4 linked regions of the Homo sapiens genome follow. The protein of the gene in region 1 interacts with the protein of each later gene in a pairwise test. Each region holds a gene or a part of one and is shown in the gene's direction. Other genes may lie near its edges.

Evidence for each region.
Region 2: the proteins of ARFIP1 (region 1) and ARL1 interact in binary tests that used the Homo sapiens proteins (3 or more experiments, as listed by UniProt).
Region 3: the proteins of ARFIP1 (region 1) and SMIM5 interact in binary tests that used the Homo sapiens proteins (3 or more experiments, as listed by UniProt).
Region 4: the proteins of ARFIP1 (region 1) and TNFRSF10D interact in binary tests that used the Homo sapiens proteins (3 or more experiments, as listed by UniProt).

What each region holds. Positions count from the first base shown.
Region 1 is NC_000004.12:152,880,946-152,887,979, forward strand, and holds part of ARFIP1 (arfaptin-1), read left to right. Parts: intron 1-17; coding exon 18-239; intron 240-1,777; coding exon 1,778-1,935; intron 1,936-7,034. UniProt on the Homo sapiens protein: Plays a role in controlling biogenesis of secretory granules at the trans-Golgi network. Mechanistically, binds ARF-GTP at the neck of a growing secretory granule precursor and forms a protective scaffold.
Region 2 is NC_000012.12:101,404,748-101,411,670, reverse strand, and holds the start of ARL1 (ADP-ribosylation factor-like protein 1), read left to right. Parts: upstream 1-3,898; 5' UTR 3,899-4,025; coding exon 4,026-4,029; intron 4,030-5,689; coding exon 5,690-5,827; intron 5,828-6,923. UniProt on the Homo sapiens protein: GTP-binding protein that recruits several effectors, such as golgins, arfaptins and Arf-GEFs to the trans-Golgi network, and modulates their functions at the Golgi complex.
Region 3 is NC_000017.11:75,628,957-75,636,433, forward strand, and holds the start of SMIM5 (small integral membrane protein 5), read left to right. Parts: upstream 1-4,477; 5' UTR 4,478-4,502; coding exon of another isoform or gene 4,503-4,982; 5' UTR 4,983-5,077; coding exon of another isoform or gene 5,078-5,246; exon of another isoform or gene 5,247-7,477. Other genes in the region: RECQL5 (ATP-dependent DNA helicase Q5), read right to left, coding at 1-519, 752-886, 1,228-1,321, 1,663-1,736, 1,823-1,881, 2,018-2,054, 2,194-2,293, 2,494-2,712.
Region 4 is NC_000008.11:23,147,028-23,154,061, reverse strand, and holds part of TNFRSF10D (tumor necrosis factor receptor superfamily member 10D precursor), read left to right. Parts: intron 1-5,510; coding exon 5,511-5,624; intron 5,625-6,989; coding exon 6,990-7,034. UniProt on the Homo sapiens protein: Receptor for the cytotoxic ligand TRAIL. Contains a truncated death domain and hence is not capable of inducing apoptosis but protects against TRAIL-mediated apoptosis. Reports are contradictory with regards to its ability to induce the NF-kappa-B pathway.

The sequences.
Region 1 (7,034 bases):
GCATCTTCCACTTTTAGTGTACTCGACAGATTATCTCTGAGAAGCTAGGCCGTGGCTCAAGAACTGTGGACCTTGAACTTGAAGCTCAGATTGATATATTAAGGGATAACAAGAAAAAATATGAAAATATTTTAAAACTGGCTCAAACATTGTCGACCCAGCTTTTCCAGATGGTACATACCCAAAGGCAACTTGGAGATGCATTTGCTGACCTGAGTTTGAAGTCACTAGAACTTCATGTAAGATTATTCTAAATAACTATTAGGGATGGGAGAAAATGATAATAGAAGTATTCTAAGAGGTAATTTGTTATTGTGATTTGCTGAACTCTTAATGAAGATGGAATTCTGAGATTCTCTTTTAAGATATTTCATATCACTTTAAGAAGGCCCTCTTAAAGTGATATGACTTCTGTTAACTTTACTTTTTATGAATTATCATATGTATATAAATCTTTCATATTTTTCTTCCTGTTTGTTAATATTTTATTTTGCCTTTTACTCCTTAATCAATATCAAGGGTTACTGTTGTAATATGTTCTGTTAACTTTTTCTAAAAGTTGTAAAAATGTTGTTTTCTGTATTATTCTATTTCCAGTAACATTTATGTAGACTTCAGTGAAGTGTGTAACTTAGCTTGTGGAAATTTGGTGCCAAAAATCTTAAGCTGTCCTGCTTTTCATTTTAGTTTTTACATGCATTGATTGGTAATCTTTTTATGTGGTCCTTTATCTGCCAATATTTGCAACAAATCAAGGTCTATAATATTTTGAAGACTGAGTACAGAGTGGAGTTACATGGACATCTCTTAAATGGAAAATGGTTTTAGCATAATAAGGATAATTTTACTTTCCTGCTATTTTCTGAATTATTGAATACTTTGTCACCTAAGAAACGTAATTACAGCTATTGCAATAGCATTAAATTTGTATCTTCTAATATTTTAGTTAATTTAATATTACATTATTTGTTTCAACTGAAATTGAAAAGTGTTTTGTAACAAACTGGAGAATTATCAAATTAAATGATACATCTTAGAATATGTGATCGGTTTTTTATTTGGTTAGGTGCATCCTGATTAATCTGTTAATTAGTAAAACTTGCACTGGAAAGCTTTCACTGCTGAATATACAGAGCTAGAGTTAGTTCTTGCCATATCTGAAGGAGTCATGTGTAATGTTTACTGCACCAAGATGCAGTTTATTCAAAAAGAATGAACTAAAGCTGGTGTTGAGTGATCCTTCCTCAGTTGTGTGCCTAAATAGAGCTGAGCTTGGGAGTCAGCTAGTCACCAAGTTTACAAAGAAATATGTATTGTTAATATTTATACTTTGAGGAGAATCAGTCAAAACACAAAAAAAATGCACTTTGTTTTATGTCTGAAAGTTTTAACCAATTATTACCTAATTTGGCTGTGAAAGTTATAGTTTCTCTGATTAATAATCTGCTCTATTTTTCTTTCCAACAGCTGTGCTTATAGTATAATAGAAACAAAATGTAGAAATGAAAATATTGTTTCTACTACAAAGTAACTTAAAAAAATTATTTAGCTTTTAGGTATGTATCTGAGCTGATGACAATTTTGGTTTATTAGACTTTTTCAGTAATTATATGGCTAGCTGTGATTTCGATTCTTAAAGACGGAAAGGAAAAGTAAAACTGCTACAGCTAGATCTCTATCTAAATCACATATTTTCCCATTAGTGACGTGCTTGAGATTTTTAAGTCACTTTTACTGATTTATTACTGAATAAATTAAGGTGACTTCTTTGTTTTAGGAAGAATTTGGCTATAATGCCGATACCCAGAAACTGCTGGCTAAAAATGGAGAGACTCTTCTTGGGGCCATTAATTTTTTCATTGCTAGTGTGAACACTTTGGTGAATAAAACCATTGAAGATACATTAATGACTGTGAAACAGTATGAAAGTGCCAGGTAAGGTATACATTTTCACTGTGTTGTCTGTTTTACAGATGGCATATAATTCAGTTAATTTTTTGGTTACAAACAACAGAAACCAACTCTGGCCAATATGGGCAGGAAAAAAATGTACTGGAAAGTTATAGGATGCCTCTACAGACCTGGCAGAAAGGGAGAGAACAAGATTCTGGAAACAACCAAGAACCAAAGCCAAGTTAAGCCTCAGAAGAATCTAATTAGAACCCCTATGCTGGGTGCCTCTAGTACTTGATGCTGCCACAGCTACCATAAATAATTTCCTAAATACCCATGAATACTTGCTTCATTGCCTTGAGATTATCTAATTGAGCCTTGGTCATGTGCCCAAACCCTGCCTTCTAGTGAGTAGGGAAATGGAGGATCTCCCAGCTCTGGCTTCTTTAGAAGAGGACAGGGCCCTATGTTCTACCAGGTAGGTATTACATGGTCCTCTATACTCTCGCCTAAATTTACCTTTCATCCTTATTACCACTGCTTCCACAATAGCCAGACCCATACTTTCAGTTTCTATTGAATAAATAAGCTCATTTTGCCTCCATGATTTTTGTTTGTTAGGATATCAGTCATCTTCCATTTATCCAGATTATAACAAGCCTTCAAACCCTTTCAAATTTTACCTTTTATATAAATTAAATATTTGACTTGTATTTTGATAACTGTTCATAATGCAGTGTTTTTATACATCCTATTTTAATGGGTTTTTGTATATCCATATTCATATATATATGTATATATACAGTTTCCCTGTCTCATAACTATCCTGTTAAATGGTGAACAAAATATATATTAATAAATATATTAATAAATATTTTGAAGGGTCTAAAATATGGCAGACCTATAATAGCCTTTTTCACCTTTTGATTCCAGGCCCAATTTTTTCCCCATATGCCCTACCCCTTTTATTTAAGTATCATTCTAGTCCCTTTTGAGGTTTTTTTCTTTTGAGCACTCAAAATTCTTATTTTCCATTATACTTTTTATGCATAGTTGAAGATAAACTTTACCTTTTAGAAGGATAACTTTACTCTTTGGCCTCTTATCCTAGTTTAATGGTATGAGAAATACCTGTAAAAAACTCCAAACTCATCTAGTATTTTTGCAATTGAGTGCTTATTAAATATATATTTCCTTACACTTCAATTAAGTAAAAGCCCAAATCATTTTGAAAAGTTAATTTTTGATGTTTTCACAGGAAGAGATGCTTCTGTCCCATACCATGTTTATTTTGTCATTTTCCATTTAGTATTAAAGTATGAGATTCTTATTGACTTGAAAATGAAGGTCAAACAGCTGTGGTTGTATGGAGGGGTAAGGGTGAGGATAGCTGTTAGTAAGATAGCCTTCCGTGGAAATCTCTTCAATAACATTCTCAGTAATTGGTGTTTCAGTCTCAGTGTAAATCCTTTCATGGAAATTATATTTTTCAAAGGGTTCATTATGTATATGAATTTTAAAATTCATTTATATAAGTTTTACTTGATCCTTTTCTAAATTTTTCTGTTCCTTGTTCATAATGTCCTAATTTGTTCATAATGGTACTGTTTCTTTTATCTCTAATCATTTTAAATATTCATATTTTCTAGTCCTTCTGATTGTTTTAACATGTATGGGTTTTAAAGATGGATATTGTTTTCTTCCAAAAATACCCCCACCACCTCCTAGTTGAGAACTTTGTGAATCTAGTTTCTCTACTTTGCAATTGTCTACCTATCCTGAAATATATTTTCGTTAATAATAATCTCTTTCCCTTCAGCTTTTATTTCTAAACAGTTTATAATTAATTTGTAGAGGAGAAAACACTCTAGAGGTTAAATGGTTTGCTCACTTGTAGTCAATTTCAAAGGCAAAATAAGAACCCATTGGTTCTCTATGGTTCACATTTTATCAGTAGGCCTTATACCTGAGTATTAGTGCCCTAAGTATAATGTGGTATAAGATCTCAGATTATAAAATACAGTATATAGGTTCATTTGGAACTTTTGAACAAAATTATAAATCAAGTTACATGTACTTGGTGGCTGGTTTCTTAAGGGAAACCCTTACACAGCCTCTGTGTGTACTTTAAAAAACAACAACAGTAATGTTGTTTTTGTTTTATGTCATCCCGTAATTTATCCTTTTTTATTCAAATTACAATGTATGATCTTATTCATTAAGCTTAGCTTGGGGTTTGACTTTTCTGTTGTTTATGAAATAGCTGTGGAATTGGCTAGTTGTTAACACTAAAACCTTGCCTACTGATGGATAATAGTCAAAAAGAATCCAAGGTTAAAAGTTTTTCAGTAGCTGAATTTCCTTCTCTGTCAAAGCCAGAATTTACTGACTTTTAGGGCAAGGGTCATCTATTTGATCAGTGCAAAAAGTGGTAATTTAGGCAAATGCCCGAGTGGCCTTTTAATCCTCCCTATTATGCATTGTGTACAAGTATTTCCTAGCCCTCTGGTGCTTCATGTATAGAAAATCTTGTAACAGCCCATTCAACACTTCTCCACAGCAGCACCAACAAGGGAGTCAATTGTGGTCGAGACTTTTCAGATGTGGACACCTGTTCTCTAGAAGTTTTACATAAGCCATAAAGTAACCGTCACTAACTTTGTTGATACGGACTCAGTTCAGACGGGCAACCTTGAAGTGAAGTTGCTTTTTGAAAACTTAGTGAGCTTCTCTTCTTGGTGGTAATGAGCACTGTTAGAGAAGCTATTATGGAAAGTTTTACTTTGGTACCACCTACAAACTCTGAATGTAAAATTAAGAAATATAAGGTCAGTATTATAACTTTGAATATGTTTGAGTTAATCACTGTTGTTTAGAAATGCGCTCCAAGGCTATTGAAGGATATTTGTCCTTAGATTAAATCACCATGTATTACTATTTATTTAGTTCTACTTTTTTCTCTTTTATTTCCTATTGTTTTTAGTGTGCTTGCTTCTAGATACCCCTCTTCTAATTTGGCCATAATAATAAGCATTCTAAAGGTATCAGTTATTACCAGGTATCCTGTGTGTTTTATCTATATGAAGTTTTTGTGGAGATTTTTGTTCACATTTATAGATTGAAAAACTGGAGCACAAAGAGATGAAATAACCAGCTCAAGAATAGAGCCAAAAGGCAGAGAGGTCATTCAGCTTGGCTCCTGAACCCATGGATTTAACTAACTAGTTATTATTGCCAAGTCAGTCTTGCCTCCTAAATCTTTTGTATTTGTCTCCTTAGCTCCAATGCCTTTGTCCTGATTCAGTGACTCATTTCTTATATGTCCATCGTTTTCTAATAGGTTTCCTTGCTCCTGATTTTTTAATCATTTATTCTATCCTCCATCTCTTACACTACCACCAGGGTCATCTTTCTATCCTGATACAATCATGTCATTTTTATGTCAGATCAACATTCTTCAGTGGCTTCCCATTACTTCTCCTACTGGATTAAATTTAAACACTTTAACATGGCCTGTAGGGCTGCTTACTTTCAATCCTGCCTGCCTGTCTAATGTTAATTCCTTCCATTGTCATGTTCCAGCTTCAGATTCTGACATACCGAATTCCCAAATGTGTCATTGTATCTTACAAATCTATGCCTTTGTCCATGCTATTCTCTTCAGAATCAGAGTATCCTACTGATTTCTGTATCCCAATTCACCTAGCCAGCTTTTACCATCCTTCAAATTTTAATTATAGTATTTTAATTCTGTCTGAGATACCTTTTCAGATATCTAATTAAATAATTATTCCTCTTGATTTCCATTATACCTTACCCTCATTTATGGTAGTTCTTATTATCTCATTTTGTTGTAATTGTTTACAAGGTTCTCTTCCTCTAGAATGCGAGCTTCTTGAGGATAAACATATCTGTTCATCTTTATAGCTCTACTTTCTAACACAGTGCCTGGAACGTGGAAAGTGCTCACTTGAGAATTGTTGAATGAATCAGTGTATCAGTGAATGAATGAATGGTTCTCTTTTGACCCTGAAAGAGGCCAATTAAATTAAATCTTAACTCATACTGCTAAATTCAGTATGAGTTAAGAATAAATTAGGATCAGTGTGAAGGACTGATGTATTCTTTCTCAAGTCATATATACAATATAGATTATGTTATTTAAAGTATTGTTAATTCCCAGAATAGGAGATGTGAATTATACACCTAATATCTCCAAATAAAGAGCTTTAGTTTTAGGGTATAAGCTTTGTGATTCTGATCTTGACTAAATTAGAGGTCACTTTGCTTCTTCTTTGCTGAGTACCGAATAGTTGAAGCTGCTGGATAAATCACTGTTTAATAAGCAAGATAGTACTATACTTAGACAGGCACTGTGATAGAGCTATTATGAGGAGTTATGGGATCTTGGAGTGATGACAGTGGTGGGGTAACTATTTGAGTTGATGGGGGGAGAATATCAGAGTGAGGCATCTTACAGAACACAGGATGGTAAGTGCTCTACAATAGATACTGTTGTTACATTCTGAATACTGATGTTACAGAAATTCATCTAGAGTTGTGTTGTCAAGTATAGTAGCCACACATGTCTGGTGAGCACTTGAAATGTGGCTAGTCTGAATTGAGATGGGATAGAAGTGTAAAATACACAGTGGATTTCAAAGACTCACTACCCACTCTCCAAATGTAAAGTACCTATGAATAATTCTGTTACATTGATTACATGCCACAATGATTAATATTTTAGATATATTGGGTAAAATGAAATATATTGATAACAGGTGAAATTAATTATTATTTCATTGTAACTACTAGAAAATTTTAAATTACATGTGTTACTCACATTACATTTTTGTTGTGCATTGCTAACCCAGACTTTTTTCAGAACCATTTACACTTCCGTTAGTTTTAGTATGCCATTCTAGAGTCTGCTGTCCTTACCTGCTTTGCCTAATCAGTACTAAGCAATTCACTTGGGGTATTTATTCTACCCTTGATCTTGTTTTGACATTTATTTTTTTTAACTGGTTTTTAGATTTTGGAAATTTTACTTGTCAGTTAATACTGTGCTTTGAGAGAAATAGTTAATGAGATTAACCAGCAGCTTTGTTCTTATTTAAATAGCTCTTTGTTTTTAAAGA
Region 2 (6,923 bases), on another chromosome or scaffold:
TTTGTTATTTTATTTTTCAACACCTTATCATGACCTTTATGCATTTGCGTTCCTATAAAAGTAGGAACCTTGCTGTGGTCATAAACTGAGAGAAGCAGTGGTGGAGGTGGGATGTAATCACCAATAAAGATTAGCTAAGTTTCTCTTGGCTATTTATGACTTTGTTAATTATAAATTTGTCTCAACACTTTTATTCTTTTTTAAAATTTTTTAAAATATGGAACACTTCAATTTGCATGTCATTGTTGTGCAGAGGCCATGCTAATCTTCCTTGTATTCTTCAATTTTAGTGTATGTGCTGCTGAAACAAGCTCTCAATACTTTTTTAAAAAACCTTGAGTATTATGTGTTGATAACTATTCTATTTCATGTGCGTTGGCTCATTAAATCTCTTTATTCAATGTCTCAACACTTTATTTATCCATTTATTAGCAAAAAGGTCTTGCTCTGTTGCCCTAGCTAGATCGTAGTGGCTTGATCATAGCTCACAGCAGCCTCAAACTTCTGGGCTCAAGCAATCCTTCTGCCTCAGCCTCCGAAGTAGCCGGGACCACAGGTGTGTGTCACCAGGCCTGGCTAATTACAAAAATAATTTTCTTTTTTAGATACGGGGTCTCATTATATTGCCCAGCTGGTCTTGAACTGCTGACCTCAATCTATCCTTCCGCCTCAATCCAAAGTGCTAGGATTACAGGCATGAGCCATTGCTCTGGCCTTTGTTTTGTTTTCAATGCCTGTAGGGAATTAGGTCAGTTCTTTACTAACAAAGCAAAGCATTATATGATCAAATTTTGAAAAATGAGAATTTTTGATCAAAATGCCTAATGGGTCTTTTTTAGTCTTTATTACACTGTTATTTCCACAGTGACTTGTAACTAGGTGCTTAATATAGATTCTGAAAGGCTGTCAATACATTTAAATTTGTATATAGTATTTCAGTTTACAAAGCATCGCGATATATATCTCATTTATCTGGTTCAGAATATGTAGTTTGAATACACAATTATATTACAGCACATTTTTCCTTTCAGTTCTATTTTATTTATTTTTTTGAGATGGAGTCTTGCTCTGTCGCCCAGGCTGGAGTGCAGTGGTGCGATCTCAGCTCACTGCAACCTTCGCCTCCCGGGTTCAAGAGATTCTCCTGCCTCAGCCTCCCGAGCAGCTGGCATTACAGGCACCTGCCACCACACCCGGCTAATTTTTGCATTTTTAGTAGAGACAGGGTTTCACCATGTTGGCCGAGCTGGTCTTGAACTCCTGACCTCAGGTGATCCACCCACCTCGGCCTCCCAGAGGGCTGGGATTACAGGCATGAGTCACCGTGCCCCGCCTCAGTTCTCTTTTAAAGGGAATCTGTATTTTCAAGAATTACACACATCATACTCAAATATAAATCTGACATTGACCTAAGTTTGAAGTAGTAATGGCCAAGATCTTTCAAGCAGCAGCAAACTAATCTTGTTTAAGAGGAGGTATTATAGAATCATAAGCACAGAGGTCCAATAATTAGACCACACAGTGCTTACAAAGGATAGCCTTAGAAAGGTTCAGGTGTTTAGGTAGAGCCCTTCTCCCCTTCTCAAACCATTAACAAAAATAAAAATAAACAAAACAAAACTTTTCCTTGCAGGAAAATTTCCGTGAACCTGTGGTTTTGGGGGCAAGGATGAGAGCAAGAGGCAAAAACTAGTTCAGAACCTAGACAACTAGTGGAGTCTGCAAACAAATCAAAACCAAGATAGGCATGGTTGGTGAGCATGTAAATTGGTATAGCCACTATGGAAGGCAGTATGGAGGCTCCTCAAAAAATTAAAAATAGAACTACAGTATAAACCATATAGTATATACCATATATATCATATATGCATATGTACCATATATACAATATATACGTATATACCATATATTCTGGGTATATATCCAAAGAAAATGAAATCAGTATGTCAAAGAGATATCTGCATCACCATGCTCATTGCAGCATTATTCATAATAGCCAAAGTATGGAATCACCTAAGAGTGAACTGATGGATAAAGAAAACGTGAAATGTAAAAATGTGGTATATGTATGTATATTTATATATATAATGAATACTATGCAGCCTTTAAAAAGAAGAAAATCCTGTCATTTGTGACAACATGGGTGAATTTATGCTAAGGGAAATAAGCTAGGCACAGAAACACAAATACTTCATGATCCCACTTATATGTAGAGTCAAAAAAAGTGGAACTCATAGAATGAGAGCAGAATAATGGCGGGATCTTGGCTCACTGCAACCTCTGCCTCCCAGGCTCAAGTGATCCTCCCATCTCAGCCTCTCAAGTAGCTGGGACTACAAGTGCCACTGTGCCTGGCTAATTTTTTTATTTTTTTGTAGAGATGGGGTCTCACTATGTTGCCTAGGCTGGACTCCAACTCCTGGGCTCAAGGGATCTGCCCGCCTCGGCCTCCCAAAGAGCTGGGATTACAGGCCTGAGCCACGACACCTGGCCGACCTTAAATATTCTTAGCACAAAATAAACATATACACACAAGCACACACGACTATGTGAGGTGATGGGTATGTTATCATTTCACAACATATACAACTATGAAAACATCACATGGTACACTGTAAATATATACAATTTTTATTTAAAGCTAGAAAAATTCTTTTAAAATAAACTAAAAAGGCAGTCCATAAGCTTCTGTTGAATGGATGAAAATCTCTACCATAAATAAAAACATAATATGCAAAGGTATTAATAAGATTTGGAAGAAAACCTAAGAGAGTATTAACAGTAGTGACTACTGGGGATCACCGAGATACAGGGTATTAGGGATGGAAGGTTTACTTTTCTCTTTTTTTTTTTGAGACGGAGTGTCGCTCTGTCGCCCAGGCTGGAGTGCAGTGGCACGATCTCGACTCACTGCAACTTCTGCCTCCTGAGTTCAAGTGATTCTCCTGCCTCAGCCTCCTGAGTAGCTGGGACTACAGGCGCCCGCCACCACGCCTGGTGAATTTTCTGTATTTTTAGTAGAGACGGGGTTTCACCGTGTTAGCCACGATGGTCTCGATCTCCTGACCTCGTGATCCGCCCGCCTCGGCCTCCCAAAGTGCTGGGATTACAGGCGTGAGCCACCGCGCCCGGCCGGAAGGTTCACTTTTCAATGGATCTTTGGGAAGTTTCAAAACATACATGCTCAACCTTTAAAAATTTCTCTAGGGGAAATCCCTTCTCCACATCCTATAGGTGTGCTTCCTTCTTCCTCTCCACACACTTCACTATCAAAACCTACATTACTTCCAACAGTCGACCCTCGAGGGAATAAGTCCCTGGTCCCCACGATCGGGACCAGCCAGTCCACACTGCCGACCCCTGAAAGGCGGTCTCAGCTGCTCGGTCAGCGAGAAAAAAAGCCGGCGAGGTCCTCGTCCTGCAGGCCACAGCGAAGACAAAAACCTCTGGTTACTGGCCTCAGGTGCAAGGCTGCTCCGCATTGGCAGCGCGGTACCATTCCTATTATTATTACGTAGTCTTGTTTCTTTCTGGGAGAAAGCACCTAGGGAGAGTTGGGCTGGCCCCGCAGGGCGCTCCGGGACACGCGTCCTCTGCAACGCCGCAGCCTGCGCCAGCGTTCGACCGGGACGACTCATCGAGGCCCGACTCGCATTTTCAGTTGTCAGATTCGCCACTTTTTGGTGTCAGAATTTAAAACAAAAATTCCAATTTCTCTATTTCAGAAGCTCTTTCTGTCCAGAAAAACACAAGCAGGAGAGACTTCAGGTTTTTGAATTATTCGTCTCTTCTGGCCTCCACGGTATCTACATCCAGTGAGCGGGGACCGTGAGTCGAAAGCGACGACGCGGATGCTCAGGCCACCGTTCCCGGCGCGCAGTCGCAGCTGACCCTCGCTCCCGCCCCCGCCTGGAGTCCGACGTGGAAGTTGCTGGCTGACTGGGCTTGCGAGGAAACCGCCTCGGAGCTGCAGCCGAAGGCCAAGGAATCACTGAAGATCGGCGAGGGAGGACAGGGGGTTCATCATGGGTGAGGGGTTCGAGAAGGGCACCTGGGCGCGCTCGAGGGAGCCGCGGCCGAGGGCTGGGGTGCAGAGGAGGAGAGGGGCCGGCCAGGATACCCTAGAGTAGCCAGCTCCTCAGGGGGCGGGTCGCGGAGGACTTGACTCACTTTGGATCTTCATCTGTAGGGGTGGATCCGGCCTCTCGCGTTCTCCTCCGTCCTCTCTCGGTTCCCCTTGATTCCTGCGGGGTCCAGGGACCCGGACAGCTTGGGGACGTCCGCAGAGCCTGGGTTCGAGTTCTTTACCCTTATCATGAAGTTTTCCCTCATCCCCAGCTCCACTTGCTGGGCAGAGTTGTTCTTGCGGAGGCTGGCAACGCGTCAGTCGCAGGTTCGCCGAGGTTTCTTGGTGAAAGATGAGCTGCGGCCCCAGAGTGGAAGCTTAATCATTCTCTTTACCAGGGGCGCTGGGACGGCGTCAGTTTGAAAAACCTGAGAGCAGGTGTTGCTTATGTTGTTTTATGGCCAGTTTGGCATTTGTCTGCTAATCTGCTGTAGCGTTTCATGTAATAATACGGGTATTTCTAGTCGGCAAATGAAACTTTATTCTTGGTTCTTGGCCCGCTGATTGAGGGAACTGCATTCTCACAAGCATCAGGTAACACCCTCGCCCCGCTAGAACCCAAGTGAGGGTGCACATTCTTTAACTCGTTTCTCACCCTCCAAATGAAGGTGCAGATTCTTTGGCTTGGTTAAATCCCTCCACAGTTTTCTGGGGAGCATACTTCTTGCTCCCAAGCATCACAGGCGCTGTCCTGTCTTCCATAACCGCCTTCAGTTTTGTTCCGCCTCTCTTCTACCTGTAAATGGTAGAAAGGACTTTGTCAAGTCACACCTATTCTGTTGAACTTTCCCAAGGTTCTCTAGCCCATGGTGTTGTTCATTTTTCAACTCGCAGCTCTTAGTTATGCCATGTCTTTGCCAAATAACAGTGTGGCATCACTTCTGATGTTAACTATTTTTTTTTGTATTAATGTAACTTGTTTTTAATCTTCTCTAATGGCTCTGGATGGGAAAAGGACTGTGCTTTTTATCCTACACAATACTTGGTGTACAGGAAGCTTTCTGGGAATATTTTGTGATGCATTGGATAGAGCTTTATTATTTTTAAAAGTGGGTTTTTTGTCAAAAATAGTTATTGTTTTCAGCTTTTTTCTCAATTTCTTGTACTAGCTATATTGCTTCGTGGAGAACTCTGATTGAAGTTGGTTATAGTGGTACTGCTGCTGTACAGTACTTTTCCTGTGCGAGGATTACATTGTCCCACTATCCTCCTTACTGGCCCCTTGGTTTTTAGGGGTAGTGAGGGGATCATGCTAAAATATTCCTATTCTGCTGATTAGAAAATGAGATTCCCAAAGGCCGCGGCCATATTTCTCTTATTATTTGGTTTATCTTCTGTGCCTGCATGACACAATAGTAACATAACTAAGGACATAGTAACATAACTAATTACTTGTTTGATATTGAATAATATATTTCATTGGGAGGAAAAATATGCACCTACGCATCCAGGAAATTATAATATTTAATTTGGTATTTAGCTCTCAAAGGACAAGGTTAGATGTTTTGTATACCTAGTTCACAAAATGACATTGTGTATGTTTTTTCTTTTATTATTTTTTAGGTGGCTTTTTCTCAAGTATATTTTCCAGTCTGTTTGGAACTCGGGAAATGAGAATTTTAATTTTGGGATTAGATGGAGCAGGAAAAACCACAATTTTGTACAGATTACAAGTGGGAGAAGTTGTTACTACTATACCTAGTAAGTGTTGGTATGATGAGCTAATTGTAGGGACTTTCTGGTCTCCATCCAACATAACTATTTCTTTCTTTCTTTTTTGTTTGTTTTAGTAGAGATCAGGTATCATCACTATGTTGTCCAAGCTGGTCTTAGACTCTTGGCCTCAAGTGATCCTCCTGCCTTGGCCTCCCAAAGTGCTGGGATTACAGGCATGAGCCACTATGCCAGGCCTATTTCTGAATAAATTAATTCATATAATAAAGTATTTGATAAAGTTTGTAAACTGCTAGTATGAACATAACATTGATAACACTTTTTCCATCAACTAAGAGGCAGCTTAGTGTAATTTAAGGACCCTTGTTCTGGTTTACGGCCGGGTTGGGCTGTTTATAGGTTTAAGTTACTAAATCTTACTGAGAGCCAGTATCTTTACTAATAAAATACATAAGATAACAAATACCCACTGGTTTTCAGGGGGAAATAAACAAAGTAGGTAAAAGTACCTTTTAAATCTGTGTAAAGAATTATATAAATGTTAAGTGATGTTACATGTGAAGTGCCTTTTTTTCCTGTATTTGTTACTATTTTAATTAAGATTAGTTTATCTTAGGTAATTATATTGATTACTTTTAAAGATCTGAGTTGCAGAGACTGAGTGTTGAAGTAATTTGGTACCTTAAAAATATCAAGAGAAGGCCGGGCACAGGAGCTCACGCCTGTAATGGCAGCACTTTGGGAGGCCAAGGCGGGTGGATCACCTGAGGTCGGGAGTTGGAGACCAGCCCAACCAACATGGAGAAACCCCATCTCTACTAAAAATACAAAATTAGCCAGGCGTGGTGGTGCATGCCTGTAATCCCAACTACTCGGAAGGCTGAGGCAGGAGAATCGCTTGAACCTGGGAGGCAGAGGTTGTGGCAGGCCAAGATTGCACCATTGCACTCCAGCCTGGGCAACAAGAGCAAAACTAGGTCTCAAAATATATATGTGTATATGTATATATTTATTAAGAGAAGAAATACCTCAATTTTAATCAATTATTACTGTCTTACAAAAATATTCTCCAACAGTCTTACTGACTATATGAGAATACTGTTGTTATTTATACTTTTTTCAT
Region 3 (7,477 bases), on another chromosome or scaffold:
CTCAGTCTGGGGAGGGGCAGGCGAATGTCCCCCGGCTCCATCTTCCTCCCCTGTGTACTTCTCTGGGGCCATCGGGGGTCCCTGAACCCCCTCACAGGAGGGGCAGGCACCTTCTGCCTCTGGGGCTGATGCCAGCAGAGCTGGGCTTTCCACCCTTCGGCAGAAGAAGCGGGCGATGCTCTGAGAATCCTTGTGGGCCGCTGTGGCTAGGAGCTGCTGTTTCTTGCTAGCCCGGCCCTTGGCAAGGGAGCTGCCCCCAGAGGAACTTTTTGCCTTCTTCTCAGGGGAGGGCCCCCCATAGTGAGCGCTGCCTCCAGGGACCTCCCCTCTGGGCCCAGGGAGGGGCTCACTCCCATCCTCATCCAGGAGGCCACAGGGCCGGCTCGGGGGCTCGTGCTCGCCTCCCCGCTCGGGCTGGGGGGCTTGCTCCCTGATCCGAGTTGTCTCCATCAGTTCCGTGGCCGTCTGGAACGGGCAGGAGCCTTTGGGGAAACCAGCTCCCACCCGCTTGGGTTTGAGCTGTAAATGTGAGCAGGAGGAGAGGAGGTTCAGCCCACTAGGCCCCCTTGAGGGCACCGCTGGCTGGAGCAGTAACTCACATTGGGACGGGGCTCTCAGGAGTGTGGGAGGGAAGAGGCAGGCAGGACCCTGGTGGGGAGCCAGGCCTTGGCAAGAGGTGCACCCCTGAGGGCAGAGGGGAAGTGAAGCCTTTCCTGGTCACAGGTCTGGAGGCCACTGGGCCACAGCTCACCGAGTACACATGGGAGGCTGGTGGAATGTCATACTCATTGGGCTCCGGGGGCTCAGCTTGGGCACTGCAGCTCTTGGCACTGCCTCCCATGTCATAGGGCTGCCCATCCTTGGAGGCTCTGTGGATATCGGCCACCTGGGCAGGGATAGGCAGGGAGGCTGTGGCACCCGCCAGCTCCTCCTGACATGCCCCACCTAGCCCTCCTTTTCTACTAGGCACTACAAGTGGGTTTCTGTGGCCAGTGGCCACAGGCAACTGACCACTGGGCAAGTTTTAGGCCTCCCATCCTCACAGGGTTGGCTAGAAACATGTCCAGCCAGTGGAGAATGGAGCTCTACCCCCATAAACTGTCTCTGGGGTGGGCTGGGGAGGGTGAGTTCTGGGCTGCCTGAGCCCAGAGAGCTGGCAGACAGCTTCTGCGTCAGAGTATGGAGGGGCCCCTGCAACGACCCTGGGTCCGCCTGCACCAGGCCCACCTTCTTCAGCACGCTGGCCTTGTAGAGGTTGGCCACCTTGGCGTTCCGGAATGTCTCATGTTCCAGCTCCACGGCCTTGGCCCGGAGGTCAGCTCTGTGGGTGCAAGGTAACAGGCACAAGGTATCAGGTGGGCCTGGGCTTCTCCCTGCTGAGCTCTTGCGGGACTCCAGGCCTGGTGGGGTAGGCCTTGGGCACAGGGATTCTGATTAGGGCTCTCTGAGCACCCTGTGGCTTACTGTCCCTCAGCAGCTGCTGGTAGCACCTAAGTTGTAGCCATGCCTGGCCCTGGTGGGGTTGTAGGGGCAGTCCCCTGGAGTAGGAGAGGTACAATCTGGGGAGAGGTGGCCCAAACAGGCCAGGGTTGACAGGGTCCTGCAGTCTCCAAGGGAACGAGAGCTTGGAGTGCTCCTCAGCCCAGTGATCGTGGAACTCACTCATCAGCGGTACGTGTTGACTGGCGGTTGCTGCTCAGCGCCTCCTCCAGAAGCCGCAGGCAGTGCTCCCGTGCCTGGCACAGGACAGTGAGACTGGTCGCATGGCCTCGCGGCTGGGGGAGGGCCCCGGCGGGTGGCTGAGGAGCTGCCCGTCTCTTACCTTCACAGTCAGCCTGGGGATCCTCCTGCTAGAAGCCTCTTTCAGGGGACAGTTCTCATCTGTGGGGGGGGGGGGTGGTCCTTGGTCCTTTCGCTCCACCTTCTGCGCTCTGAGGTCCCCCACAGCCCGGATGAGAATCCTCCCTCCATGCCCCGGGAAGAGCCCACAAGCCTCCAGGAACATTTCTGTACTGACCTGGGGGTACAAATTCTTCTATCTTGGGGTCTTTGCCCTGGAGGACAACATGAAGGACCCATGAGGCGTCCTGCCCTGCCGCAGGACAGTCCCATCCAGCACCAGAGAAGGGGCTGAGAGGTGCGAGCAGGGGGCCACCAGGGGCCCCACACAGGCCACTGAGTGCCTCCCCTCACCTTGCGCAGCTGCATCTGCTTCTGATAGAAGAGGTTCCACTCCCGCTTGTGGGCCTCATCTCTGCCTTCATCCCCGCTGCCTCCAGAACCTTCGTCATACCTAGGGACAGGCCAGGCGTGAGTGGCCCTGGCCTGGGCTCTGCCCTCCCCATGTGTGCTGCTGCTAGAACGGCAATGTCCCTGATGTCCTACCAGCTCAAGGGGGGATTGCGGCATCGTGCCACCTCTGGTCTGGCCCTGGCGCCAAGGGAATGCCAGGCAATTCCAGCGGGTTGGAGCCCTGGCTTCTCGGCCCCTTACCTGCTGAAGTCCCCGTAGCCCTTGCGGCCTCCCTCATACAGCTCGGGGTCAAAGCCGTTCCCCTGGGAGGGCCCGATGCAGGTCTTGCTCCAGCTGCTGCTGCGCTCCAAGGCCTCCAGCCGCCTCCGCACGGCCGTGGGGTTCTGGCAGTGGTCGCAGCCTTTGGCGCAGGCAGGCAGCGCATCCCCGAAGTACTTGGCAATGGCGGCATGGCGGCACCTGGAGCAGGCAGCACCGCAGAGGTGAGGGGCGGAGAGCCCAGTCGGCCAGCGTCTGTTCACCCGAGCCTGAATCGCTAGCTGAGCGAGCACTGCCGCGTCCGGCACCATGCCGGGAGCCCCACACCCCTCATCTCATCCAAGCTGCACCAGGCATCGTTTGGCTCTCCCCACTACACAGATGAGGACGATAAGGTGAACCAACTTTCCCAAGGTCACGTAACACATGGGGGTCTCCCGGGAAGCAGGATGTGAACCCCACTCTGTCCAGTTACTCCTCTGCTCCTCCCCTCTGTCCTCTGGCAATGGGATGTAGATGCTGGCTCTGCCATGAAGGGTGTCTTTTGGGTGACACACTTCACCTCCTAAAGCCCATGCATTCCCGTCAGTAAGATGGTGCAGAAAGGCACAGCCCTCACGGACTGAGCGAAGATGGCTGAGGTGATGTCTGAAGTGCATTACAGTACAGTCATGCCCCATGGAATGACTGCACAGCCAATGGTGGTCCCCTACGATTCTAACACTGTATTTCTACTGTACTTTTTCTATGCTTATGTGTGCTTAGATATGTGAATACCACTGTGTTACAACTGCATACGGTACTCAGGACAGTAACGTGATGTACAGGTTTGTGGTCTAGGAGCAACAAGCTGTAGCGCATGGCCTGGGTGTGTAGGAGGCTGTGCCGCTTGATATTTTTTTCCTTCTCTTCCCTGGAATTGCTGTTTGATTTCCCTAAGTATACTCTGTGACCGCACAATGACAAGTTAAATTTCTCAAAACGTATTTGCATTGCTAAGGCAGGCACGGCTGTGTAGTAATATGTCCCATCATCAACCCGTGAGGGTGTCACAGGTGGGGCCTTTAGCCAGGGAGACGCAGCCTCGCCTGGAGTCCTCCTCTCGTCTTCCTCTGTCTCAACCCTGCTGCAGCCCTCCTGGGGTGAGCGGCCTCTGCCCATGCTGGGAGCAGGGAGCAGCCTCTGGCTGGCCCACGAGGCTCTGTCGCATCTCTGTTCCCTCTGCATGGGGGTGGCTGTCGACCCTTGGGGCAGCTGCAGAGGCCGCAAGAGGGGCCATAGCTCTCTCAGGCTCCTTATAAACAGCCATTCCTGCCACCAGGAACGTGGCACAGGGTAGGGAAGCCCAAGAGGAGATGCTGGAACACAGGCAGGGCTGTCTGGGGTGCCACATCCCAGGGACAAGAATAGCTGGCATTAACTGCTCTAACTAGAACTCCTCCCAGTGTGAGCACTGCTGCGGCTGCAAGAAGCCCTTTGAGGGGCTGCGACCCCAAGGCGCAGGCTCAAGGATGCAAGGCTGATTGCAACACCCCGGTAAGGAAGCAGGGCCTGGCTGACTTTCTTTTAGCTGAGTGAATGCAGCTCTGAAGCCTGACCTGGGCTGGGACAGCCGAGGCGGCCACCAGAGGGCGCTCCTGCCCCCACTCTGCTCCAATGAGTAAATGCAACAAATGGTTCATCCCCAGGAGTCCGTGCGCCCGCACAGCGGCCGCCTGTCCAGCCTCTGGGAGGCTCTGGCATCCGAGTGGTGTGACCACATGGCTGGCTTCCTCCCCCTGCCCTCCTCAGGCCCTGACTCACTGGGGTTTTGTGCTCGGACTCAAAGAGCTCCATTGACAGCGGGGCTGGGGTCGGTTTCTCTCCACACAGCCTAGCCTGCTGGGAGGCACAACCAGGCAAATGTCACAGGGCCCGGCCCCTGGACTCTGGAGCCCTGCCCTGACAGCTGGGCCAGGAGTGCGGTCACAGCCCCAGCAGAAGGCCCTCACCTCACAAGGAACATGAGGCGCCTTGCCGGGCGCGCAGGCCACTCCCAGGTCACTCAGGATTCCAAGTTCTCCCCCAAGACGCCTTCAGATGCTGAGCGGCACAAGGGCCTCCCCAGGGACTGGTTGCAAAGCCTCCTGCTCAGCTTGAGAGGGCCACCAGCTCCCCACTGTTTACTGTTGTTCCTGAGAGAGGCCAGAGGGAGGGACCAGCCAGGGAGTGGCCAGAGGGACAGAAGGGGTGGCCTTCCTGAGGGCAGGGTGGGTGCCCCAGACCTGAGAGCGCTGCAGGACTCCCCTCCACAGGCTCAGGTGGAGCCTCCCCAGGGTCCTCCTGGCCAGGAAGGCAGAGAGCCGACTTCTTTCTTCAGCTCCCAACCCAGGCCCAGCCCACGGCGTGGGAGTCGGGGAGAGGGAGAGGAGGAGGAAGGAGGAGGAGAGAGGGAGCTTGTCTTGTCCCTGAGCAGCGCTCTCAGGGCAGAGGTGAGGCACCGGGACATGAAGTTGGAGGACAAGTTCCCAAGCAGGGCTTCCTCGGGCTCCCCCTCGCGACGGTAATTTGACACTTGGATCTCCAGGACGACCAACAACAAAAAAGCCAGGCAGAGACAGCAGCTGGCTGTCAGCAGAGGAGCTGGGCTGAGGCGCCCAGGGGAGCAGCGGCGCCCACGAAGGAAGTACGAGGACAGCACGTGGAGGCTCCGCGCTGGGGCACTGCTGCTCAGCCCCCAACACCTGAGCTCCCAGGTGAGTGGCAATGGCCACAGAAGAAGGGGGGACAGGGAGGGAGCAGCAAGGGTCCCCTGCCCCCAGGGTGAAGGGCCACAGTCTACCATAAACACGGAGAGGTCTTCGGGGACATGCTGGGTCGCTTCCCTGCAGGGAAGTCAGCCAGCCTCCTGCACACACCTGCACTCTCCCTGCTGCTGGGACCCTGCACTAGGGGAGGGCTGGGGGCTCTGCTCAGAGCGCCTCCTGCTCCGCCTGCTGTGCAGCAGAGGGGCCCCGAGGGCCTGCTTATTCTGCAAGTTCATTTCAGCTCTTTTATTCAGGGGGCTTAAAAGAGGGATTTGGCTGTCCAGCTTGGGAGAGAATGGCTGCCGGCCTGCTGAGCCTCCCTTTTTCCCAGGATTAGGGCAGAGCCCTGTCGAGGTCAGCGCAGGGTCTGCCCAGCCAGCATGCGGCGCCCCCAGGATGCAGCAGGACTCTGCCCATCTGTGTCCTTTCAGGGGCTTGGCCCACTCACTGCTGGTGTTCTCAGCTCACGGCTCAGCCTGGGTCCTCCTCCCTGGGCCCATCTAGAACCCCATAAACTCCTAGATCTCCCTCTGGTGATGAGCCTTGAACACCAAACCAGGAACCTGGAGGACTGACTTTCAACTCAGGCTCAGGTGGGCAGAAGGTCACAGAAGTGAGGCTGGGAGGGACCACGCTGGCAACCGGGACCTCTGCTGTGCCACCGTGATGCACAGGCTGACATGACACCACCCCTAAGGAAGCAGGACCCGGCTGTTTGGTTCTTTGGGGAACACTGAGAGCAGCCCTCCTGGGCAGGGCCCGTGAGCCGAGGCTGCCTACTCCTCCTGCCGCCCTGTCCTCAAGCCAGCGTTAAAGCCACCACCCCCCATATGTTTTCCTCAAAGCAAACAAGCTGGCATCTAGTGAGAAACAAAAACAATGACCCAGGGAAATGTGGAAACCAAGGACTAGCCCAAGTGTTCTCAGCTCAGCAGAGGCTGGGGGCTTCGGCTGGGGCTGGTGTCTGGGGAGACAAGCTCCTGCGGTGTTGGGAGGCGCACAGTAGGGAAGAGTCAGGCCAGGTCGGGGTCGGGGCACAGCGGTGAGCCTGGAGACCCCAGTGGCTGTCACTCACAAGACGCCCCAGGCAGGCAGGTGGGGATCCCTGTCCTGCATCCACAGGACACGAGTGGACAGGGTCTCTCCAACACAGTCCCTGAACCAGGACGGAGGGTGAATGAACAGCCAGCTTCTGTAGCTGCAGAAAGAGCGCCTACTGTTTCTAACACCAGCAGCAGAAAGCGCTTCCTCCCGCCCTGGGTGGCTACAGGAGCAGGGCCTGCCAGGGGTTCAAGCACCACTTTCTACTTCCAGTTGGAGCCAGGGCAAAAAGGGGAGTCACCCAAAGGCTCAGTGCCACAAATAGGGGCATCCCCCCCGGCTGCTCAGGCACAGGACCCTGCAAATCTCCCACAAGTGTCAGTTATGCCTCCTTCTAGGTGGACCTCAAACGAGATAATGCCCAACAGGGCAAGGGTGACTAAAACCCACCATGACGAAACAACAGGGCAGAGCAAGCAGCCCTCTGGGGCCCCGCGCTGCCAACACACCTCGCTTATCAGTCTCAAACACGCCGCCTGCTGCCAGCCCTTCCTCGTGAGGCGCCTGGGGTTGGAGTATCAGCTCTGCGAGGAGGAAACAGGGAAGCTTCGGGACCAAGTGGCAGCTGTCTGGCCTGCGGGATGCCTGCCTGTTGCAAGGCTCCGTGTGCCAGGAGATGCCACATAAAGGAATGCTTCCCATCCCTCCGGCTCTGCCAGCCTTCTCTGCCCTGAGTGTTTCCCCTGTGCTGACCGCTACTGCAGCCAGGGCACACCCTCTGAAGGCTCCAAGCAGGGCTGGCTGGGCAGCCTGGGCAGCAGGAGGGCCTGGTGGCAGCTGGGCTACACTCCCTCTTAAGGCCAGAGGGAGCCACCACTTGCTCTGGCAGCCACTCAGGAACCCCTGAGGACCCTGAGAAGCCTCCAACCAAGGCACTACTGAGCGTGGGGTTGGGAGGGACTCTGGTTGCCCTGGTTCGCAGGTGGGCACTACCAAGCGTGGGGTTGGGAGGGACTGGTTGCCCTGGTTCGCAGGTGGGAAGTGTGGTTTTGGAAGGAGTTGGGTGAACCTGAGATAGAAAGACGGGAAAAATATGGGATCATCAGTAGCCCTCCTGGGCTTCCCTGCCTTCCTCCTGC
Region 4 (7,034 bases), on another chromosome or scaffold:
TGACAGAATTTCCTTCTTTGTTGAGGCTGAATAGTATTCCATTGTGTCTATGTACTACATTTTCTTTACCTTTTCATCATCGATGGACACTTAGGTTGATTAATGTCTTGACCATTGTAAATAATGCTCCAATGCACATGGGAGGGAAGATACCTCTTTAACATACTGATGTCATTTCCTTTGGATGTATACACAATACTGGGATTGCTGGATCATATAGTTATTCTATGTTTTGTTTTTTGAGGAACCTCCATACTGTTTTCCATAATGGATGTACTAATCTCCATTCCCACCAACAGTGTACCAGTGTTCCTTTTTCTCCCCATCATCATCAACACTTGTTATCTTTTGTCTTTTTGGTAATAGCCATTTTTACAGGTGTGAAGTGGTATTTCATTGTGGTTTTGATTTGCATTTCCCTGATTAGTGATGTTGAGCATTTTTTTCATATACCTGTCGGCCACTTCTATGTCTTCTTTTTAGAAGTGTCTCTTCAGGTCCCTTGCCCATGCGTCCGTTTTAATTGGATTATTTGATTGCATACTATTGAGATGTTTGAGTTCCTGTGTATTTTGGATGTTAACCAAAATCTTGGATCTTTTGGATATTGATCTCTCATCCTGTATGTTGTCTCGTCACTCTGTTCATTGTTTCCTTTGTTGTGCAAAACCTTTCTAGTCTGATATAATCTCATCTGTCTATTTTTGCTTTTGTTGCCTGTGCTTTTGGGGTCATAGCCAAGAAATCAATGCCCACACCAACGTCATGAAGATTTTCCCCTATGTTTTCTTGTAGTAGTTTTACAATTTCAGGGCTTATGTTTAATCTTTAGTCCATGTTGAGTTGATTTTTACATATGATGTGAGATAAGGGTCTTATTTCATTCTTCTGCAGGTCAATATCTACTTTCCTCTACATCATTTATTGAAGAGGCTGTCCTTTCCCCATTTTGTGTTCTTGGTATCTGTCACAATCAGTTGACTGTAAATGCATTGATTTATATCTGGGTTCACTATTTCATTCCATCAGTTTATCTTCGTTTATGCCATTACTATTCAGTTTTGATTACTATACCTTTGTAATATATTTAAGAATCAGGTAGTATGATGCCTCCATCATTGTTCTTTTTGTTTGTTTTGCTTAAGATCACTTTGGCTATTTGAGGTCTTTTGTGGTTCCATACACATTTTAGATTTATTTTGTCTATTTTGGTAAAAAATGTCATTGGAATTTTAATAGGCATTGCATTGAATCTGTAGATCACTTTGGGTCATATGAACAATTAAGCAATATTGAGTTTTCTAATCCATGAACATGTACTGTCTTTCCATTTATTTTTGTTACTTTCCGTTTCTTTCATCAATATTTTACAGTTTTCACATCTTCCACCTCTGTCACAAATTTATTTAAAAGAGTTGCTGCCTTGACATCCATTTTTAGGCCCAATGTAAGTTGTTTAAAACCCAATCATACCACAGCATCTTTTGCCCAATTAATAATTCCTTTCCCTGTTCAATTGTTTTTGATCTAGCACATTTGTTCATCATCTCCCTGACCCCAAACCCAACACATCCCACAGGAGCTGACTACAATAAAACCTAATGGTTCACAGCAGAGCAGTGTGAACCTTCTTTGCAGGTGTTGTCTTCCACAATCCCTGTGGGAAAGCCTGGGGTATAATGCCCATGGATCTTTATAAAGGTGTAGTCCCACGGGTCCTCTCTCTCTGTCTCTTGCTCCCCACACACCGGTTAGTGTCCTCGGACTGGATAGCTCCCCACTTCCCGTAAGTGCTGCAAAGTGTGCTATCCTCTTCTCTCTGGAGTCTGTAAGTAATACACCACTTCTGTGTTTCCTGTGTTTTGTTGTGTTGCTTCCTCTGTGTTTTCCCTAATTGACACATCTGAACCTAACATCCTTCTCCATCTTGGCTCTCTTAAAGAGTGGCTGTCTCCTAAAGAGTAGAGATAACTTAAAACTGGACATAGGTCAGACAAGAGCCACCAGGTCTACTGCTAGTAAAAGTAATTGTCTTGTGGAAGGGACATGTACAAGATGAACACCCAATTAGGCATTAGACAGTCCACCGGGACAAATAAGTTTCCTGTGAACATCCATGATGAAATCTCCTGGATCCCCCCCAGGGCAAGGCTAGAATTTATAGCCACTCTACAGAGAGAAACCTCAAGACCAAATTAGAAAAAAATACAGCCACCACCTTGGTTAAATTTATTCCTAAGCATTTTTTTTGTAGCTATTATAAATGGGATTTTTCAGATAGTTTCTTGTCAGTGTATAAAAACACTACTGAATTTGTAAGTTAGGTTCATGTCTAACTTTATTTTACACTGATAACAATTTATCTTTGATCTCATAAAAAACTTGACACCTTTTCTTCTCCTGCCTTATTTTATGTTTTGTCATTATTTACGTCTTTTTATGTTGTGTATTCCTTAACAAATTGTATTAAGTATCATTTAAAAAAATACATTGGGCTTTTAACTTTTATAGTAATGATGTAAGTAATTTGTACACTATTATGATTGTATTAGAATATTCTGAACTTGACCATGTATTTAACCACCTAGTTTTATATTTTCGCATGGTTTTGTGTATCCAGTTAGTGTTCTGTTCTTTCAGATTGAATAACTCTCTTTAACATTTCTTGTAAGGCAATACATGCTAAAGATGAACTCCCCCCGTTTTTTTTTTTCTTTGTCTGATAAAGTCTTTACTGCTCTGCATTTCTAAAGGACAGGCTTGCCAGGTGTAGTATTCTTGGTTGGCAAGGAATTTTTCCTTTCTGTACTTTGTATGATTCCACTCTCTCCTGGCCTGTAGGTTTTCTGCTGAGAAGCCTTTGGTAGTTTTATAGGGGTTCCTTTGTACATTGCTTGTCTCTTGCTGGTTTCAAAATTCTCTTTGCCTTTGATGTTTGGGAATTTGTTTAAGATGTGTCTTGGTGAAGATCTCTTCATATTTATCTGTTAGGGGTTTTTTGGGCTTCATGAATGTGGATGTCCATTCCCATCCTGTTTTGGGACATTTTCTTTAATTATTTCTTTAATTACACTTTCTGTTCCTTTCACTTTCTCTGATGCTCCTTGGACCACCATAATGCATATATTGTTTTGCTTCACAGTAACCGTTGGTACTGTTGGCTTTCTTCCCTCTTTTTCATTCTTTATTTTTTTTTTCTTCCTGTGACTTGGTAATTTCAAATGATCTGTTTTCAAGCTCACTGATTCTTTCTTCCGATTAATCAACTCTGCTGTTGACATTCTCTGTGGAATTTTCTTAGTTCAGATATTGTGTTGTTGTTAATTTTAGAATTTCTGCTTTCTTCTTTATTATGTTGTCTGTGTATATTAAACTACTCATTTTGTTCATGTATTGTTTTCCTGACATGACTTAGTTGTCTATCCATATTCTCTAGTAGCTGACTGAGCTTCTGTAAGATGACTGTTTTCAAGTCTTTGTCAGGCTGTTGTAAATGTCTATTCCTTTCGGGTTGGTTACTTGTGCTTCATTTTGTTTCTTTGGTGCCGTCACTGTTCCCTGATTGCTCAGGAGCCTGTGGCAATATGTTGGAATGTGCACTTTGAAGAAGCAGGGACTTAATCCAGTATTTACAGACTGGCTTTGTCAGGGAACGCCCTTCACCAGTCAGCCTGTTCACAGATTCTGGGCAGGCCATGTGGTGTGGTTCAAGGGTGGTCAGAGCCAGTATCCAGAGAGGTGACCTGAGGCCTGGCTCCATGAGGGCTGAACTGGCACTGGAATAGGCCTTGTACTTGGGTCTGCAGATGTCAGCCAGGTGCTGTGATGGGTCTCATCCTTGGGTCCACAGGGAAGGGCCTGGAGCCTGAGTTCATGGGGACTGACCTGGCACTAGGACAGATCTGGAAGCTGAATCTATGGAGGTGGGTCAGGATCCTGGGTCTGTAGTGCTAGCCCGAAGGCACAAGCTAAGACTGATATCTTAGCTTATCATGCCTTTATCATGCCCTTATCTCTATGTGTTTCCAGACTTCTGTTTCCTGCACTTTCTGGTTCTTTATTCCATAGGGACATGTTGGATGATTTCTGTCAGTCAGGCACCGTGCTAATGGGATAATTATAAGAGGCCCTGCCCTCGTGGAACCTTTTCTCTGGGATAGTATTAAGACACACAGATCAAAATAACAGTCAGAAATTCCTGATAGGAACCATGAAGAAATTAAGTGATGAGTGAGACAGAGACGAGGTTGGTGGGGCCTCTCGGGGATGGTGATTTTGGCCAGTCTCCAAAGCTGGACAGGGATAGTTGTGCAGAGAGCCAGAAATGGTGCTCCTGAGCAGCCTCCCTAGGAATGACAGTCCCAGGGTGCAGGCGCTGGGGGATACCGAGCAGAGACGGGGCCACCATAGTGAGTGGACAGCAAACAGGTCAGGTGGACCAGCATGGGCAGATCACATGTAGATGAGGTTGGATTTTATTTTGTTATTTTATTTTATTGTTAAAAAAAAAAAAAAGTAGACTGGGCGTGGCATGGTGGCTCACGCCTGTAATCCCAGCACTTTGGGAAGCCGAGGAGGGTGGATCACCTGAGGTCAGGAGTTGGAGACCAGCCTGGCCAATATGATGATACACCGTGTCAACTAAGAATACAAAAAATTAGCTGGGCGTGGTGGTGGGTGCCTGTAATCCCAGCTACTCAGGAGGCTGAGGCAGGAGAATCGCTTGAACCTGGGAGGTGGAGGTTGCAGTGAGCCAAGGTCGCGCCATTGCCCTCCAGCCTGGGTGACAAGAGTGAAACTCTGTCTCCAAAAAAAATTTTAAAAAAGATAAAATATTTCTTTTCTTTTCTTTTCTTTTTTTTTTTTTTTTTTGAGACAGAGTCTTGCTCTGTCGCCCAGGCTGGAGTTCAGTGGCACAGTCTCAGCTCACTGCAAGCTCTGCCTCCCGGGTTCACGCCATTCTCCTGCCTCAGCCTCCCGAGTAGCTAGGATTACAGGTGCCTGCCACCACGCCCGGCTAATTTTTTGTATTTTTAGTAGAGATGGGGTTTCACTGTGTTAGCCAGGATGGTCTCGATCTCCTGACCTCGTGATTCGTCCGCCTTGGCCTCCCTAAGTACTGGGATTACAGGCGTGAGCCACCGTGCCTGGCCAAAAAAAGATAAAATATTTCAAATATTTATATTGATTACATATTGAAATGTAGTGTTTTGGATATTTTTAGGCTAAAAAATAGTTAAAATTAATTTGACCTCATTCTTTGTACTATTTTAATGTGGCTTTCATAGAATTTGAATTTTGCATGTGATTTGTATTATATTTCTGTCAGCAGTGCCAGTCAAAGGTATGTAATAGTGTAATAGATGCAGAATTGATGACAAGACCAAGCCAAGAAGAGCAGATTTCTCTGTCTGGATTCCACTGAGGGCCAAAAGAGAAATTTGCCAGCCATTGTCAGCCTCTGGGAATTCTGTGGTGACTCATTCATTAACTTTTCTCTCCCTTCCCAGGATCTCATAGATCAGAATATACTGGAGCCTGTAACCCGTGCACAGAGGGTGTGGATTACACCATTGCTTCCAACAATTTGCCTTCTTGCCTGCTATGTACAGTTTGTAAATCAGGTACAGAATGTGTGGACCCCTTGCCCAGAGGTGGAGTGCATAGTGATGAGGTGGGAGCTGTAGCCGATGTGAGTCGGGGAACCAAGTTCTAGCCCAACTTGGTAGTCTTCATCATGCCCTGTTCCATGATTATGACTAGTTGATTAAAAAAAAAAAATAGAAATCTTTTTTTTCTTTTCTTTTATTTATTTATTTTTTTGAAGACAGTTTCACTCTTGTTGCTGAGGCTTGAGGGCAATGGCATGATCTTGGCTCACTGCAACCTCTGCCTCCCAGGTTTAGTGATTCTTCTACCTCAGCCTCCTAAGTAGCTGGGATCACAGGCATGCACCACCACACCCAGCTAATTTTTTTTTTTTTTTTTTTTTTTTGGGAGACGGAGTCTCGTTCTGTTGTCCAGGCTGGAGTGCAGTGGCGCGATCTCGGCTCACTGCAAGCTCCGCCTCCTGAGTTCACGCCATTCTCCTGCCTCAGCCTCCTGAGTAGCTATGACTACAGGTGCCCGCCACCACACCCGGCTAATTTTTTTTTGTATTTTTAGTAGAGACGGGGTTTCACCGTGTTAGCCAGGATGGTCTCGATCTCCTGACCTCGTGATCCACCCACCTCGGCCTCCCAAAGTACTGGGCTTACAGGCATGAGCCACCGTGCCCAGCCAGTTTTTTGTGTTTTTAGTAGAGACAGGGTTTCTCCATGTTGGCCAGGCTGGTCTCGAACTCCCGACCTCAGGTGATCCGCTTGCCTCAGCCTCCCAGAGTGCTGTGATTACAGGTGTGAGCCACTGCGCCTGGCCAAAATCTTTTCTGTAATGCATGCCACCAGGCTGGGAAATCTTCTAAACTATTGCCTGCAGCCGGGTGGGGGCATCATTACAGCATAGAGGAGGCCTGGCCCAGTGGACAGGGCTGGGTTCCAGCAGTGGCACAGGTCTGCTCCGTGGCCAGGCTCTCTCCTCCCGGGCTCTGTGCTCCTGAAAGGTGCTTGGCCTCACTTAGCCTTCAGGTTCTCAGGCCCCTTCCTCTTCCCCAGCAAGGCCGGGGCTTTTGGGAAGTCCCCCAAGGGCCCCTCTCCTTGCAGAGTCTCTCAGGTGATGCCCTTGCGCCTCCCTTGCTACTGACCATGCCATCTAAACAATGCTTTTCCCCTAACCTGATATAATAAATAATGAATCACGGTCCTTTTGTATTGGTCCTTACATACAGGGTGGGTGTCCTGTATGAGTCCCGAGTGTGCTGGTGCAGAAACCAGCCCTCAGAACTCCTTGGTGAACTGAGTTGAGCTGAGTGGGAGGGGATGGGGTGGTGAGGAAGGGTGGACAGACATGTCAGGGAAACACATTCTCAAAACCTTATGCTCTGTTGTCAGGTCAAACAAATAAAAGTTCCTGTACCACGACCAGAGACACCGTGT